Linked DNA regions of Homo sapiens. The protein of the gene in region 4 purifies or fractionates together with the protein of the main gene of each other region. This does not show direct contact. Each region holds a gene or a part of one and is shown on either strand. Other genes may lie near its edges.

Region 1 (4,050 bases), on a different chromosome or scaffold from region 4:
ACTACAAAAAATTAGCCAGGCATGGCAGCATGCACCTGTAGTACAGCTACTCGGGAGGCTGAGGCAGGAGGATAGTGTGAACCTGGGAGGCAGAGCTTGCAGTGAGCCAAGATCACGCCACTGCAAGATCGCGCCACTGCACTCCAGCCTGGGTGACAGAGCAAGACTCTGTCTCAAAAAAAACAAAAAACAAACAAACAAACAAAAAACACCATATGCTACCATTTTCCTCAGTGGAGCACGTGAGCACAGCAAAAGAGTTTGGGAAGGAAGCCTTGTTGTAAAGACACTAGTTTAACTGTGTTGAATTCAGCATTTCACAAATATAATCAATGAAAAAACCCTTCTGTGTAATAGCTTTTAAAATCCCGAGGATCACACTTTAGGGAAAAGCCCACTCTTTCTGGTACTCTCCTGCCCCTACCCCTAAAAAGTGCCAGGGCACAGTATTAATAAATATTAACCTAAGACCAGAAATGAACCCAGTTCTAAATGGAAACTGCTATTAGCCCTCCAAGGTGGTCAACAGCTTTGCCTCAACCTAGGCTATTCGTTGAGGAGTATTAGGTATCTTGGGTGTAGAGACAGCAGTAGCAAAATTCACTGCAAGGTGTGTTTGGATCCCAAGCACAGTCCCTGAATCCACACCACCTCCTTACCCAGTGTTATGTACAGCAACTCCTAGCAGGGAAAATAAAATGGATCCACGGATCGTCTGCTGGCACAACTGGAAAAGAGGAGAAGCTGAGAAATCGAAACAAAAAGAGTATACAGGGTAAAGGGGACAGAGCAGAGTCTTAAAAGAGCAGTGACAAGGAGCCAACCTGTGCTGGGCCGAGATGGGGAAGAGCCAGCACAGCAGAGACCAAATGAGGGAGACAGAGACTAACTCTTCAGGGAGCCCAAGAGATCCCAGCCACTTCTGAACTGTCAACTTTTAAACAGGCTCTCTAAGCAACCAGCGAAATCCTTCACGGAAGTAAAAGATACGGTAGTTTTTCAACACAAGTTAGAAAGCTGTGGCTCTATACAAAGAGGATGCCATTCAAGAGACTTGCCACCAGAGGTCCAGGAGAGCACACCCCTGTCCACTCAGCTCAAATCCAGGGTGCCAGAAGTCACAGCTACTACTTACTTTTTTGGATGGTGAGAGATCTTCACAGGGTAGGCATCATGGACATGGCTGAAGTCCAAAAGACAAAAAGATTCTGAGTTCTCTTCTGTCCTGTCTCAGGTTGAGGTTGGCTATTGATTGACTGTGTTGACTCCACCAGTCCTGACTTATTAGAAAAGAAAAGGGAGATGGATCCGGTGTCCAAAAAAAAAAAACACTGGTGTACAAAACATGTCTAATCAGGTTTCAAGCCAAACAAACTCATCCCTGAGGGAAGCTTACTCATTGAGGTATTGGGGAGTTGCGCTGGCATGTGAGGAAGTGCCCTGGGGAAAAAAACGCAGAGGTGTGGGACCAATCCTGACTGTGCACACGTATTCCGCCATGTGCGGGTTTGAGGCACCACGGAGGTCCCTGCAGGAGCCCTGGGAAAGGTACATCCAGAGAGGGGAGAAGAGGACAGAGCAAAACTAGGAACAAAACTGGGCTTGAGGACTGTGGAACAGCTGACTATTGAGGAACAGAAGAACTGACTGAAAGCCAATGTGTTCAGCTACTGTAAAGTATCTCACTTAATTCTCTATTCTGTGGGACAGAGGGCTGGAATACTTGAAGATTTGTCTAAGCTGGGATCTGAAATATTAGCTCCCTTTGACTCCAAAGCTCCTGGAGTGCAGCAGCGCGATCTCGGCTCAACCTCCGCCTCCCGGGTTCAAGCGATTCTCCTGCCTCAGCCTCCTGAGTAGATGGGATTACAGGCGTGTGCCAGCAAGCCCGGCTAGTTTTTGGTTTTAGCACAGACGGGGTTTCACCATGTTGGCCAGGCTGGTCTCCAACTCCTGACCTCAGGTGATCCGCCCGCCTCAGCCTCCCAAAGTGCTGGGATTACAGGTGTGATCCACTGCGACCGGCCTCCTTCCTTTTTTAACTACATTGAGCTGCCTTCCTCCCCCAAGCCCCAAACCTTGGGACACCAGAGGCGGATAACCAGAGCCCTTTTCTGGGTAGAAAAGAGATAACCAGAGCCCTTTTCTGGGTAGAAGAGAGAGAGATGATTGAGAATTTAAAGAGGGCAATGAAGGATTACGAGAGGGGGTAACGGGCAGTTCTGCCTTCGTGCGTCTTAACAGCTATTTATTCAACATTTTCTGTGTGCCTTCTCTGTGTGTGTCAGGCGCCACGTTAGAAATGGATAAGAAACAGTCCTGCCCTCCAGGGCCTTACAGTCCGGTGAGAAGTCATATAAGTAAACAGGGCTGAACGAGAAGGCAGTAACTGCCCAAAGTGGGGATGGCAGGGCGCTCCCGCGGTGAACGTGGACACCTATCAGGTGCTGAGTAAATGCTGGCAAAATGAAGACAGGATGAAAAATAGAGAAGGGGCAGGGGTAGAACATGGCCGTGAAGGGTGGAAAGGCGGGGGCGATGAGAAGCTACAGGGGACCCCACCGACCAGTCCCAGGTCCCGTGGCCCGCCCCCTCCTCTCAGGGCCGGGGAGGGCCCGGCGGCGAGGCCGGAGAGTGGGGACCCCGCTTGACTGCATCCCAGACCCCCGTGGCCCCAGAATCCCGTCGGCCCACGCCGAGCTGCTCAGGACTCGCCGGGCCGGGCCGGGCCAGTCCCCGCCACCCCGGCTTGCTCGCCCTCTCACCTTCACCTTCCCGGCCTCGCGGCGGCCATCACACTCACTACGTCACCAGCGAGCGCCACCCCAGGGGGAGGCGGGAGGAGGGAAGTGGATAAGCGCGTCACCAGTCGCCTCAGATTGCCCCTCGACCCGGGTGAGCTGGTGGACCCTGAGCCCAGCCGGCTCGCCCCGCCTACTCCTTACGCCTCTGCTGCCCCGCGACTCGGCGCTTCGAGCGGCGTCTCAGCGCGCCACTCCTCCGCGCGCCACTCCTCCGCCGGCGCGTCCCAAGCGGACGACGCAGAGGCTCGGACTCCCACTGCATCATGGGGGCTGTAGTTCCGGTGGGCGTCGGCCGGAGCTGGGGGGGCGGGGCAAAGCGGGGCGGAGCCTCAAGCTGTCAAGGGGCGAAAAACCAAGGGCGTGGAGTAGAGGTTCCCGCTTTTTCGCCGGTTGTCCTAGAGCCTGACCCTGGGGCCTCTGCCAGCTCTGGAATCCAGATTTGCATTCTGTAATCTTAGAGGAGTGTTCTCTAGAGGGCCAGGCCTAGGGTGAAGTGACTCATCGGGCAGACAGAAGCGAGCATGGGCCTGCTGCCCTTCAGTCGCCTTTGAGGAAAGAAGAGCAGCAACAACGGCGAATCAATGCCAGTGACTGAACTGCGTCTCTAACATCCACCGCTGTATTTAACGTCCACAGCAGTCCCAGGAGAGGGAGAGGAGAGGTTACCCAAGCTCACATGGTTACCCAGATCACCGGGCCCCAGTGATGCGGCAGACACTACTAGGAAACCGCAGCAAACAGATCCCTTGCAGGACTTGGCCTCCGCAGAGAAGGCTCCAAGCCTGAGCGCGCCAGAACAGTAGGCACTAGCCACGTGTGGCTCTCGAGTCCTGAGCCAGTGCAAACGGAGATGCGCTATAAGACTTAGGACAAAAAAGGCTGTTAAACTATCTCAATTTTTAGGAAAAAAAAATATCGACCGGGCGCGGTGGCTCAAGCCTGTAATTCCAGCATTTTAGGAGGGCGAGGCGGGTGCATCGGGAGTTCAAGACCAGCCTGGCCAACATGGTGAAACCCCGTCTGTACTAAAAATACAAAAATTAGCCAGGCATGATAGTGCACTCGGGAGGAAGAGGCAGGAGAATCGCTTGAACACGGGCGGTGGAGGTTGCAGTGAGCCGAGATCATGCCACTGCACTCCAGCCTGGGCAACAGAGACTCCGTCTCAAAAAAGAAAAAAAAAATCTATCTTTGAGCCAGAGTCTCACTCTCACTCAAGCTGGAGTGCAGTGGTGCAATCACGGCT
Region 2 (3,519 bases), on a different chromosome or scaffold from region 4:
ATCTATATAAATATCTTTCAGTGAATAAAATTATCTTACCCAATTCTTCCAGTTCTTGAATGACTTCTTTCCACACAGGCTCGATATGAATGCAGCTAAAGCACCAATCGGAGGTGATCTTGATGAGGTAGGGTTTCTTGAAGCTATCTGGAACCACTTCATTCACATAATGTGAAAAGTGCAATAAATACTTTTCGTCAATTGAGTCCCGCCGTTCAGAATTAAAAGGGAAGTGAAAAAAGGATTCATCAAAATAAAAATTTTCATGGAAATGGCGGAAGCGATACTCTCGCTGCTGTTGCTGCTTCTGGTAGCCCTGGTTCTCTCCAGCGTCTCCATATTGATCATAATTTGATCTCTTTTCTTCATTTGAAAGAATCTATAAAGGAAGAAAAAAATCTAAACAACAACAAAAGGTTCATCCAAAAGACTTTTTTGTAAGCAGCTTGAAAGACATAGGAAGAAAATAAATGCAGCCAGTCGTGGTGGCTCACACCTGTAATCCCAGCACTTTGGGAGGCTGAGGCGGGTGGATCACTTGAGGTCGGGAGTTTGAGATCAGCCTGACCAACATGGAGAAACCCCGTCTCTACTAAAAATACAAAAAATCAAATCAGCCGGGAGTGGTGGCGCATGCCTGTAATCCCAGCTACTCGGGAGGCTGAGGTAGGAGAATTGCTTGAACCCAGGAGGCGGAGGTTGAGGTGAGCCGAGATGGTGCCACTGCACTCCAGCCTAGGCAACAAGAGCGAAACTCCGTCTCAAAAAAAAAAAAAAAAAAGAAAAGAAAAGAAAAGAAAAGAAATGTAAAAATTATGACACGATTATGTGAGGCCAAGGTTTGGAGGATCCCTTGAAGCCAGGAGTTCAAGACCAGCCTGGACCACATAGCATGACTTTGCTACAAAAAGAAAAAAAAAAATCGGCCAGGCATGGTGGTGCGTGCCTATAGTCCTAGCTACTTGGGAGGGTGAGGTGAGTGGGAGATTGCTTGAGCCCAGTAGTTGAAGGCTGCAGTGAGCTGTGATCGCATCACTGTACTCCAGCCTGGGTGACAGAGACAGACTGTCTCTTAAGAAAAAAGAAAAAAGATTATGACATAATTAGATATTCTTTTTCTTTTCGAGATAGAGTCTCACTCTGTCACCCAGGCTGGAGTGAAGTGGCGTGATCACAGCTCACTGCAGCCTCCATCTCTCAGGGTCAACCTTCCATCTCAGCCTCCTGAGTAGCTAGGACCATCAGCACATGCCACCATGCCTGGCTAATTTTTGTATTTTTCACCATGTTGTCTAGGCTGGTCCTGAATTCCTCAGCTTAAGCGATCTGCATGCCTCAGCCTCCCCAAGTGCTGGGATTACAGGGCGTGAGCAGCCACTGGGTCCAGCCGATTAGATATTCTAAATGCAGTCATTCAAAAGAATGAGAAACTCTTCTTTCACTAGAGAAACATTAAAGAACATTCAAGACTAAAATATTTCAGTTTAGGTACTCATGCTCATCTTGGCATTAAAGATTTCAAACTACCACAACATTAAACACTTCAGCAAAACAAATAAAATAACATAATGTTGATCACCAGGGCTCAATGACAAGAAAATTGACCTGGTCATACCTGGTGAGTTGGACCAATTCAAACCAAGATAAGAAAAGCTATGAACACCAAATAGCTATAGTCTAGTGCCTTGTCTGTTAATTTACTTTGTTTTACAAAATAACTTTGAAGTCTAAAATTCAGGAATCTGTTTTAGAATGATGACGTGTTATTCTATGAGCTAAGCACTGTCTGCTGAAGGGCATTCCCTATACAAATCAGAAAGCCACTGAATTCTCTTTGATGCATATTCCAGACCAATCTACTTGAGCTGACATACTGGAAAATTACTGAAAATCTTGTGTTTAAATGTATTTGTTACCTCGTGCCACTTTAATAAATATAGGCGATTTGGTATGTGATTCTTTAATGCATATTTCTAAGAAGGCAATAGTGACACATACAGACATACTCAGGGTAATTCTACAATTCTAGTTAAAGCCTTTAAAATAGGCCAGTTTTTCCAAGAGCTGAAGTGTTCAGGCACTTGTTCCAATATACTGGATGTGGCCAAATATGTTCTATTATTTTTTATTTTATTTTATTTTTTGAGACGGTCTCCCTCTGTTACCCAGGCCTCGATCTCTGCTCACTGCAACCTCCCACTCCCGGGTTCAAGCAATTCTCCTGCCTAAGCCTCCTGAGTAGCTGGGATTACAGGCACGTGCCACCACGCCCGGCGAATTTTTTTTGTATTTTTAGTAAAGACAGGGTTTCAGCATGTTGGTCAGGCTGGTCTCGAACTCCTGACCTCGTGATCCACCCACCTCGGCCTCCCAAAGTGCTGGGATTACAGGCATGAGCCACCGCATCCAGCCTGTTCTCTCTATTATAATCTAGAAACTGCATCAAGGGCATGGGGAACATGACCTTTCTGACAACTTTACAAAACTCATCACCTCCTAAGGCATATTTTGTAAGAGCTAATGGATGCATCACAAAGCTGGACACGATACCTCGTAAGCCTTACTGATTTGAATGAACTTGTCTTCTGCTCCAGGATCTTTGTTTTTGTCAGGATGCCTGAAACACAAACAGGCAGGCGGTGAGAAAGGATGTAACTTTTAATGCACAGTCATTTAATGTCCTTGTCCACAGAGTTCACTACAGAGGCAGACGGAGGGCTATTTTGTTAGGAAAGTTTCTTAAAATAAATGATAGAGGCAATCAGTTGTTTTACATGACTATAATAAATGAAACTTTGAAACAGGCTATTTTTTCCCAAAGCACTCCAGCAGGGCATGTTTTCAAAGCACCATATAATACTGCAGCATTTCACAGAGGAAGGTGGGAAATGGTGCATGTCTGTACACTGCTCCCAAACACTGCTAAAGCTGGCTGAAGGCTAAGTCGTTTATCCATAAGAACCCATGTCTTCTCCTAGGATGGCAACGTTTCATCCCAATGCTAGAATGATATCAGGATGCTAGAATGCTGTTGTTTCTTCTGATAACACAGGTAGACATGAGAAATAGCTTTTAGGATAGACTAAATTCATTTAGTAACAATCAGGTTTCAAACTGCACTTGTGCCTGACTTTCAAATTAGAACATTTTTCGTTATTATTACGATTGCTTTTTACCTGGATAAAGATTTCAAGGCCACTGTTTTTTTTGTTTTTTTGTTTTTTTTGAGACAGGGTCTCACTCTGTTGCCCAGACTGGAATGCAGTGGTACAATCTTGGCGCACTGCAACCTCTGCCTCCCAGGCTCAAGCGATTCTCTTGCCTCAGCCTCCCGAGTAGCTGGGATTACAGGCCTGCGCCACTATCACCCGGCTAATTTTTGTATTTTTAGTAGAGATGGGGTTTCACCATGTTGGCTGGGCTGGTCTCAAACTCCTGACCTCAAATGATCCACCTGTCTCGGCCTCCAAAAGTGTTGGGAATACAGGCGTGAGCCACCACGCCCGGCCTCAATGCCAC
Region 3 (3,519 bases), on a different chromosome or scaffold from region 4:
ACAACAATGCCCTGTAAATAATACAGGCATTTGAGAAACTCATTAACTTTTAGAATGAAAAGGTACAGTTTATTATCTCAAATAAATCTACTAGAAAAATCTCAGTGGGAACATGTGTTCATAAGCATATAAAACCACACCAGAATAAGGAATACCTGAAAGAGTACTGCACATCATTCTTCAAAATACTCCCTGCTCAAAAACTATAAATAACATTCTGAAATGAAAACAGCCCTTCACAATGATAATCTAATAGACTTCCAATAATAATAATATACTTATCTATGTCCACATACTATATATAACACATGCACACATGCCATGTCTGTGCATGCAACCAAACTAACTGGCACAAAGCAAACTTTGTAAACAAAAAACGCATTTCAAAAGAACCACTACAAATAGCCCAGAGGAAAAAGAACTCCACAAAGAAAGTCAAGCCAGTGTCAAATGAGAAATTATGGCAAATTAAAGGATATTTTGAGTAATACCTTATGTCGAGCACCAAAAACCACTAAAAAGATGTTTTTCATGTAAAACAAAATAGTGACACTAGTAAGGACATCTGTGTGCAGAGGAATCCATGACAGAAAAAAATGCTTGGATGGTAGAAAAAAAATTATCACATGCTATGCATCTTTTTGAAAGGTAGAGTATTGAAAATAAAACATAAAATATTTTCCTACACTTATACTGTGTCATTCAAGTTGCTGCAACTCAAGACAAATATACAGCAGGAACTGGAAGGAAAGAAAAGGCAATCAGGACAGGACATTCCTTTTTTTTTTTTTTTTTTTTTTTTTAGACAGGGTCTCACTCTGACACCTAGGCTGGAGTGTAGTGGTGTGATCTCAGCTCACTGCGGCCTCGACCTCCTGAACTCAAGTGATCCTCCCACCTCAGCCTCCTGAGTAGCTGGGACTATAGACATGCATCACCATACCCAGCTAATTTTTATTTTTTGTAGAGACAAGGTTTCACTATGTTGTCCAGGCTGGTCTCGAACTCCTGGACTCAAGTGATCCTCCTGCCTTGGCCTCCCAAAGTGCTGGGATTACAGGCATGGGACACCGCGTCCAGCTCCTTTTCATCATATACTTCTTCTTCAATCAAGTGACTGAAGAAGAGAGACATCACCCAGATGAAAACCAAAGGGAGCTGGCAGAAGGGGAGTGTTCTAGCTCGGAAAAGATGATGACCTAGAGAGAACAAGGATGATTTGTGTAACATTTTAAATGACTCAGTTAAGGTAAAGACACACCTTGATTACCAAATCTTTTAGAAGCTACTTCTAAAATCTGATTTTAGCTACCTTTAGGAAGGTGACTCTGCCAGAGAAGATCTGAGGATTCAAAATGAGCTTGGATAAATTCAAGAATGGCTAAGATAAGCTGAGATTAATCCCTATCCTTTACAGTTGACGTCAGAGAGAACAAGTGTGCCCTCATGGCCTCCAGTGGCTGTATATATTTGAAATGCTGTGGGTGTACAGGCCATTTCTGTTTCCATGTTATATGAAATATATCGATATATTATTTATTAATTATAACTCTAATGGCCATATTAGAAAAGCCTACAGGTCGTATATTTCTAATCACCTTATTGCCTCACGACAAAATTCAGCCATGTGATTGTCCTCATCTATACGAGAAAATCTGGATTTACTCTTCATCAAGGCCCTGATAGAATTTTTAATATGTAGTACCAGAACTAGAAATCAACAATTTAGCAAAATTGTTTTGAGTGGCTATTTCCAGAGGTAGGATTAAAAGTAACTTGAATAAAGTCCTGCAACAAGCCCTACACTTCCTAGTAAATGGGATCTGATGTTGAGGTTAAATTGAGAGATTCAATCTGAGGTTAGAAAACTCACTACAACAATAGGTATGTGTATGGCTTCTGCTAATGTGGGATACCTAATAAAAAACAAGGATGGTGAACAGAATACCAAGGGATTTACTGTTGGCTCAATCAATAAAAAGAATTTAAGTTTCACATAGAGAACAGAGTTTCTTAAAGTGCCATTGATTCCATCATTGAAATGAAATTGCAATAGAGCATGCTTTCCTTAAAACCATTACATTTACTTACTAGCTTAAATTAACCAACTCCCTACTTTGATGGAAGTTACCACCTCACTTTCATTATTGGACATAAACTAGTGGTAATAACCTCCCAGAGAAGAACCTCTGTTCACTGACCTGAAGCTAAACATATATACCTGTTAATTGTGCTATTTGGGGCAGAACAGAGGGGATTCTGTGTGTAATTAAAGATAAAATCACTTATACTCATTAAAATTAACCATTTAACTATATTCTCCTCACATACTATAACTATTACTTAATCAGAAAACTACTTCCCAGGCAGTCTATTGACCATATGGCATAGTGGTCTTTTCAGTATTACAGAAATGCTCATTCAAAGCAGGAATGTTTCCCAGGGAAGTGGTGGACCCACATAAAGGGACTTTGGAGGCCCCATGTCCTAATCACCTTTTAGTGTACTGTATATATACAATATATATAAATAACAAATCATATCTCTTCCAAAAATCAAAATTGACTTTTACATTAAAAAAGAATTACCAAGGAATTCGGCAAACCTTACTTCTGGTAGTGGGCTGGCTGGTTTGGTTAGGATTCCTCCTACATAAACAACATTAGGCAGAGTGGGTCTTGGGAATTCCAGTGCTACGTCAGTACACAGCATCCACAGGCTGGACCCATGAACCAAATCATACATGGACTTCTCTGGCAGCAGGTTGTACTTCTGCATTATCCTTTCATATTTGGGAAGAACCAGAAAGCTGACCCCTAATCTGGAAATGAGGTAAACACCGGTATTTTTCATCCTTTGCAGCAAGTTCATGCGGTCTGTGAGGAGTGAGTTAAACTCTGGGACGTATGCTAATGGAGCAGGAGCACCCACTTCAGCAGGATACCAAAGGCCAGTTGAAAATACAGCATATTTAACCCCTAAAAGATGAGCTATCACAAATCCACACATATCATTAGGGTCCACCAGCAGCAGGTCAAATTTTTCTTTCTTCAGACCCTGGATCAGGGCATGGTTGCCAACCATCAGGTCACAGTTCTTAGTATAGTGATCCAGTATGTCAAACAGTTCGATTGCTGTCAATCTCCCAGAGAAAATATTCCGCATCTTGGACTGTAGGAAAGCATCTGAGGTGGTACTGTTAAAGATCCCTGGGTAGCGCTGGAGGCTGTAATGATTAGATGGGGCGATGTCTCTGCCTTCAGAGAGGAGGAACACTGTATGGTGGCCTCTCTCGTGCAAGGCTGAGGCTAGCGTCTTGAAAATGTACATATGGCTTTCAAACATAATTGGCGGCACGATGATGATTTTGGCAGCCTTCGCTATCCCAACAGCACTCCACAGGAGAATGAAATATGGAGTGTAAGACTTCATAGCTGTAATAACAACCAGAAAACAACTTAAAACAAAATACAATGCTCACCATTCAAAACAAGCAATCACAAAGCATTTTTCCCCAAA
Region 4 (3,519 bases):
CCGGTAAAATAATTTTAACAAGTATCTTATTTATGAGTATTTATTTGTTCTTTATCTAGGTACTCTGCCTTTTTCTAAGAGTGTTTTTGAATTTTTTAATTAAGTTAGTAGCTGTTGCCAGGTGTTCCTCATGACTAAATTTACCAAAGAGCCGGCTGGCATTGAGGGTGGAGTCTGTGTCAATAAAACACAATTAGCTACAGACCCATGTGGAGTGGGGATTTGACCTAAACGTCCATGGGATCACACCCAAAACCTAGCAGTCACTATTCAAGTTCCACAAGGGAGAACTAAGATACGGGGGAAATGTCTGGATTTTTTAAGGTAAGAAACCGTGATATTTCTTAACAAATAATTTTATGTCAAAAAATGCCACAACAGCTGTCTGAATTGCCAAATTCACTAGGTAACCACCCAAGTTTATCCTCTCATTGTGCACTTCAACCTGCATGTAGAAGGGGCCCCAGTGATTTGTGCATGATGCAGGGTTTTCAAAGAAAGGATAAGCATCCTTGGCTGGTTTCCAAGCCCTGTCCTCTGACCCCATCATGCTACCCCCCGCCCCCACACACATATATACCCATGCATCAACTCTTTTGGCAGTTATGTACAACTGTACATGGGGGAATTATAAAATTAAAATATGAAATGCAAACTTCATTAACCAAAATGCACATTTGGTTAACGTGAATACAGAGAACGGCACTTAGCCCAGCATAGCTATTCCCCAGAATTTGATCTTTGACCCATCTCACCCCTCTCTAGAAACACTCTCCTGGGGAGACATATAACTTGAACTGAGTCCCTATACTGATAACTCCCAAGCTATAGTTCTTGCTGTAAATATCTAACTGCTTACTTGGTTATCTCTCCCCACAGGCATCAAAGTTATAAAGTTATTAAGACCGAAGATTTCCCAGGCTTTTCAACACAGATCCGCAGTCGTAGCTTGAAACAATTAGGAGCTGCCAGAATATAAAACAAATTTGGCAAGGAACAGGAAGCAGAAACTTAGAAACATGTGGCCCAATCACTTACAAACTTGTTTTGGCCAAGAAATCCTTTGTTCAAATAAAATCTTACTTGGAAACCAAATATGTGAAATCAAGCACAGGACACCTGCTCAGATAGCAGAAGGGGCCACCAGAAAGGAGCCCAAAGGTGGAAGCTGGACATCGGTCCGCCACCCATTGCCCTCATGCCCTGTAACACAGCTCCAGAGGTGCTCCCTGATACTCCCAGGAATGTGCAAAATACAGTTTAAAATCTACTGGCCAAAATCCATTAAGAAATCAAGAACAGAACACCTACTCAGATAGCAGAAGGGGCCACCAGAAAGGAGCCCAAAGCTGGAAGCTGGACATCGGTCTGCCACCCATTGCCCTCATGCCCTGTAACACAGCTCCAGAGGTGCTCCCTGATACTCCCAGGAATTTGCAAAATACAGTTTAAAATCTACTGGCCAAAATCCATTAAGATTTTTATTCGTGGATAAAAATTTATTTATTTTTATTACAAAATCAACAGTTAAAGTGTAATTTGGGGAAGCTAACTGGTAACAGTGGGTGAGAATCTCCATGAGCATTAAAACCAAATAAGAACAAATTAAAAAAAATAAGGGGCTGAGTAGGGCGTGGTGGCTCATGCCTGTAATCCCAGCACTTTGGGAGGCCGAGGTGGGCAGATCACTTGAGGTCAGAAGTTTGAGACCAGCCTGACCAACGTGGTGAAACCCCGTCTCTACTAAAAATACAAAAATTAGCCGGGTGTGGTGGCAGGTGCCTGTAATCCCAGCTACTCAGGAGGCTGAGGCAGGAGAATCGCTTGAACCCAGGAGGCAGAGGTTGCAGCAAGCCGAGATCATGCCATTGCACTCCAGTCTGGGTGAAAGAGTGAGACTCCACCTCAAAAAAAAAATAATAAAACTAAAAAAATAAGGGGCTGGCATGGTAGCTTACATCTATAATCTCAGCACTTTGGGAGGCTGAGGAGAGAGGATTGCTTGAGCTCAGGAGTTTAAGTCCAGCCTGGAAAAACATAGTAAGACTCCATTTCCATTTCTACAAAAAAAAAAAAAATTATTTATCTGGGCATGGTGGTGCCCACCTGTAGTTCCAGCTACTTTGGAGGCTGAAGCAGGACTGCCTGAGCCTAGTAGTTCAAGGCTGCAATGAACCATCATTGCACCACTGCACTCCAGCCTGGGTGACAGTGAGACCCCATCTCTTAAAAAAAAAAAGAGAGAGAGAGAGAGAGAAAAGAAAAAAAGAGGTGAATTCTAAGTAGGAGTAGTCTACTAGATAAATCTTCAGAATCTGTATCAGTCACCTCACCACATTTTCTCAAAAACAATAAATCCTAATGACAAGGAAAGCTCTAAAATTAATCATACTTTGTTGAAGTCACATAGGGCAAGGTTTAAACTCCTATCTTTCTTACGTAAGAGTCCTATATAATATCTTTCTTATATAAAAGTCTGGCCAGGCATGGTGGCTCATGCCTGTAGTCCTAGCAACTTGGGAGGTTGAGATGGGAGGATTGCTTGAGCCTGGGAGGTCGAGGCTGCAGTGGGCCCTGATAAGGCCACTGCACTCCAGCCTGGGTGACAAAGAGAGACCCTGTCCCAAGATAACCCTTTTTATTTAATTTGATGCAATTGAATAAAAACAGAAAGTTTTCAGAGAAAGTTTGAGTATTAAGGTTGACAACTCAATCAATTTAAAGAAACACATAATAAAGGACACATCTGTAAGTATTTTAGAGGAAACACATTATTGTTGTAGAGTAAAAGGCCAAATTATTGTCCTAAACAAAAATACCCATATGGTACCACAATCATCAAAAACTTGAAAATAGTTGGTTAATTAATTCATTGGTTGACAGTAATTATATCAATTGTGTTGATTTGGTTGTTTTGACATCTTATACACATAAGCCTAGTGAATTCCACAGAGAAGAAAAAAAATCACTGAACATTCATTCAACCATTGGGAAAAGCTTTCCATATAATGAATGGGCCCTCTATAGAGAAAATGCACACACAAAAAATTTCCATTATATGTTAAGAATATACCACACATGAAATTTTATGTTTCAATAAAATTTTTTTCTAAAGAGGCACAAAATTATTATTACATATGTCCATAGTTTCTCAACCCTGGCTGTACATGAGATTCACCAGAGAGATTTAAAAACTATCAATACCCTAGCCCTGTATCTCAGACCTACGGAATCAGAATTTTTCAGAGTAGGACATTGGTACCAGTTTTTTTCCTTCCTCAGGTGATTCTAATGTGTAGGTGGGGTTGAGAACCATTGATACAGAGTCTTCAATCAACTGATTTATGGATACTAGGTTGTCAGGTGTCAACCTGAACAGACCATTTATTTTTTATATCATTTATGCCTGTGAGTTTGGGCTACCCCTATTCATAACTATTTAATAATGATGATTAAGGCTGGTTTTTGATAGTTGTCTGGTTGAACTATCACTGCCTGAAGAAGCAGCATTCTGTTCTC
Region 5 (3,037 bases), on a different chromosome or scaffold from region 4:
TAAACCCTAAGACAATTTTCTAAAAATAAAATAGTATCAATACAAGTATTTTAAGTCACATCAGAATAAGCACAAAATTTGACCTGTAACAACTGTATAACTGCTGCCAATTTCTGATTTCATTTTGTTTATATGGATGATAGATTATTTTGATTTGTATTCGTATGTGTGTATATGTTTTTTCTCTAAGGAAGGAAGTTTGTTAACATCCTGATGTGCTTTTGGTATCTAACCAGTGCCAACATCCCCAGTGAAACTTTAAGAGGAGCCAGTGTATTCCAGGTTAAGTTGGGGAATCAGAATGTGGAAACTAAACAACTTCTTAGTGCAAGCTATGAGTAAGTTTAATCAGATTTCATTGTTTCCTTTCTTCAGAAAATGGAAGGTAGTGTGAAGGTATGAAAACTAAGAGATCTTTAGGAAGAAAAGAATTGAAATTTGACAAGTTATTTATGAAGAGAAAAGGTCAGAAAGACACACTGGATATGAAACAGGAGAGTTAAGAAATTAGAAAGAGGTAAAGTTGCTGAATTTAATTAAATGATGTTTTAGCTGTCTATTGCTGCTTAACAAACTACCCCCAAATTCATTGGCTTCAAACAGCCATTGACTTTGCCTGCTATTTCACTGCTCAGAAATTTTGGATAGGCTCAGTTAGGGGGTTTTCTCTGCTTCACCTGGCATCAACACGAGTGGCAGGAGCTGGAGGATTCATTTCCACAGTGACTTCTTAACTCGCATGGGTGGCACCTTGGTACTCCTTGGCTTCTGCATGACTCTGTATTCTCCAGGGCCACTCTTTGTGGCTTGGACTTGTGGTAGTTTCAGACTAGTCATATCTTTCATATAGTGGTTGAATTCTAGGAGGCAGAAAATGGAAGCTGCTAAACCAGTAAAGGGCTATGCCCAGAATTAGAACATCAGTTCTGCCATAGTCTACTTGTCAAAGCAGTCAAAGGATCTGTATAGTTTAAAGGGTGTAGAAAGACTCCCCCATTTTTTGGGGCAAAAACCAGCAAGGCCACATAGCAGAAGAGCACATGGGAGGGGAGATATGGTTGTGGTCATTTTTGGAAAATAAAATCTGCCATAATTGGTACATGAACAATTTATTCACTAGACATCTGTTGGTCATCTGTGTGCCCACATGCTCTGGTAGAGGTTCAGATACAAAGTTGAAGGGATACTGCCCTTAAGCACATACTGTATAGTAGGAAGTTAGCAAGTTACGTAAAAGAGACATTATATTGTATTTTTATGCGAATAAAATCTAGAACAGTGAACTGCTGGAGCAAGTCAGTGAAGATATAATTTAACATTTATTAAAAAAATATGTTGCCAGAGTTACACAAATCTGCTTCAAAATAACAAACCCCAAAAATGACCTAAGAAATAAAATGTATTCTGTTTTACTAAGGTAAAAGAGAATTATATCCTCATTTTTTTTTTGCTCTTCTTAAAAGAAATGTGTTTTTTTAAATTTTGCTTTATTTGTAATTACCCAAAATATTCTATATATTTAAATACTTAATTTAAATCTACTGAATTGCCTGTTAAGAAATAATTTTTAAAGAGCACTGTCGTCAATACTAAACTTTATCTTTTCTGATGTTTCTTACTAAGACTATGGGTACTTCATAAACATTGTTATTTTCAAGATTGATTTAATGTATGTAAACTAAATTCCACTATTTATTCCTAAATTGGTAACAGTGCTATTTGAAAAATAGCTTTTTGCCTGTATCCTAGGTTATGTATTTAAAGTGCTGTTTGCATCACCAGAGTCCAGTTTATCTGTCCTCATATTAGGCATGTGTTATAGCTAGTATTTAACACATACTAGCTATATGTGTTATTTATATAACACATATATCCAAGTTTCTCTTAGGGGCTGGTAGATGTTGAATATAGATTAGTCCATTAAAAATACTTACATTACTTGAGAATGTACTTCAATTTTGTGGGTATATTTATTGTGATTGAATGGGTAGGTTAAACTTTTTTTTGTTTTGATTTTGATTTAATATTAACCATTATCTTGTTGCCAAAAATTCTTCTAAATATACACTTGCAAATTACATAGTTATCTAACACATACTTGGACTGATGTAAGATTTACATTATTTGCAATGTCTTTCCTAGGTTTCAGAGGGAGTTCACACAAGGAGTAAAGCCTGACTGGACCATTGCACGGATTGAACACTCAAAATTATTAGAATAATTTTCTTGGAAAAATCAGCTTATGGACTTTAGCAGTTGCTGTGAAAAACTAAGGAAGAAAAATTTTGGGGTCATTTGATCTTCACTTAATCTAAGTCTGTGAATTACTTTTATATTATTTTGAAATACTCCTTGCAGTATATTGGCATGATACAGTAAAAGCATTTTCCACAGATTGTTATCACCTTCTTTAAAAGAAGTCAAAATTTAAAAAATACAATAGCACGTTGTTGGTGTCATATTCAATAACATTTCCAATGCTACATATAATTTTATAGACATAATAAAGAAGGTATTGAAAAAACTACTTACAAATTTCTTTATATATTTTTTAAATTGTTTGAGAAACAGGGTCTTGCTCTGTCTCCCTGGATGAAGTCCAGTGGCATGATCATAGTTCACTGTAACGTCGAGCTCCTGGGCTTGAGCGATCCCCCTGCCTCAGCCTTCAGAGTAGCTGGGACTACAGGCATCCACCAGCATGGCTGGCTAATTTTAAAAAATTTTTATAGAGATTTCACTATGTTGCCCAGCTGGTCTTGAACTCCTCAAGTGGTTCTGCCTCGGCCTCCCAAAGAGCTAGGATTATAGGCATGAGCCACTGCACCCAGCCTACTTACACATTTCTAAATTAATAGTTCTTAAATATTTTATTTGTGGCTAATACATTTACACTTTTTTTTTTGACGGAGTCTCCCTCTGTTGCCCAGGCTGGAGTATAGTGGTATGATCTCAGTTCACTGCAACCTCCACCTCCTGGGTTGAAGCAATTCTCCTGCCTCAGCCTCCCTTGTAGCTGGGACTACAGGTGTGCACC

The links.
Region 1: the proteins of SLC16A12 (region 4) and MFN2 purify together in Homo sapiens (affinity purification with mass spectrometry; one large-scale study listed by BioGRID and IntAct). This does not show direct contact.
Region 2: the proteins of SLC16A12 (region 4) and DNAJC16 purify together in Homo sapiens (affinity purification with mass spectrometry; one large-scale study listed by BioGRID and IntAct). This does not show direct contact.
Region 3: the proteins of SLC16A12 (region 4) and UGT8 purify together in Homo sapiens (affinity purification with mass spectrometry; one large-scale study listed by BioGRID and IntAct). This does not show direct contact.
Region 5: the proteins of SLC16A12 (region 4) and MAIP1 purify together in Homo sapiens (affinity purification with mass spectrometry; one large-scale study listed by BioGRID and IntAct). This does not show direct contact.

The regions. Positions count from the first base shown.
Region 1 is NC_000001.11:11,979,200-11,983,249, reverse strand, and holds the start of MFN2 (mitofusin-2), read right to left. Parts: upstream 2,807-4,050; 5' UTR 2,766-2,806; intron 1,441-2,765; exon of another isoform or gene 1,397-1,440; intron 1,281-1,396; 5' UTR 1,136-1,280; intron 728-1,135; exon of another isoform or gene 660-727; intron 1-659. UniProt on the Homo sapiens protein: Mitochondrial outer membrane GTPase that mediates mitochondrial clustering and fusion. Mitochondria are highly dynamic organelles, and their morphology is determined by the equilibrium between mitochondrial fusion and fission events.
Region 2 is NC_000001.11:15,533,335-15,536,853, reverse strand, and holds part of DNAJC16 (dnaJ homolog subfamily C member 16 isoform 1 precursor), read right to left. Parts: intron 2,618-3,519; coding exon 2,551-2,617; intron 380-2,550; coding exon 40-379; intron 1-39. UniProt on the Homo sapiens protein: Plays an important role in regulating the size of autophagosomes during the formation process.
Region 3 is NC_000004.12:114,622,794-114,626,312, reverse strand, and holds part of UGT8 (2-hydroxyacylsphingosine 1-beta-galactosyltransferase precursor), read right to left. Parts: exon of another isoform or gene 3,435-3,519; 5' UTR 3,433-3,434; coding exon 2,611-3,432; intron 1-2,610. UniProt on the Homo sapiens protein: Catalyzes the transfer of galactose to ceramide, a key enzymatic step in the biosynthesis of galactocerebrosides, which are abundant sphingolipids of the myelin membrane of the central nervous system and peripheral nervous system.
Region 4 is NC_000010.11:89,525,576-89,529,094, forward strand, and holds part of SLC16A12 (monocarboxylate transporter 12), read right to left. Parts: intron 1-3,519. UniProt on the Homo sapiens protein: Functions as a transporter for creatine and as well for its precursor guanidinoacetate. Transport of creatine and GAA is independent of resting membrane potential and extracellular Na(+), Cl(-), or pH.
Region 5 is NC_000002.12:199,961,591-199,964,627, forward strand, and holds the end of MAIP1 (m-AAA protease-interacting protein 1, mitochondrial isoform 1 precursor), read left to right. Parts: intron 1-190; coding exon 191-338; intron 339-375; exon of another isoform or gene 376-517; intron 518-2,142; coding exon 2,143-2,221; 3' UTR 2,222-2,527; downstream 2,528-3,037. UniProt on the Homo sapiens protein: Promotes sorting of SMDT1/EMRE in mitochondria by ensuring its maturation.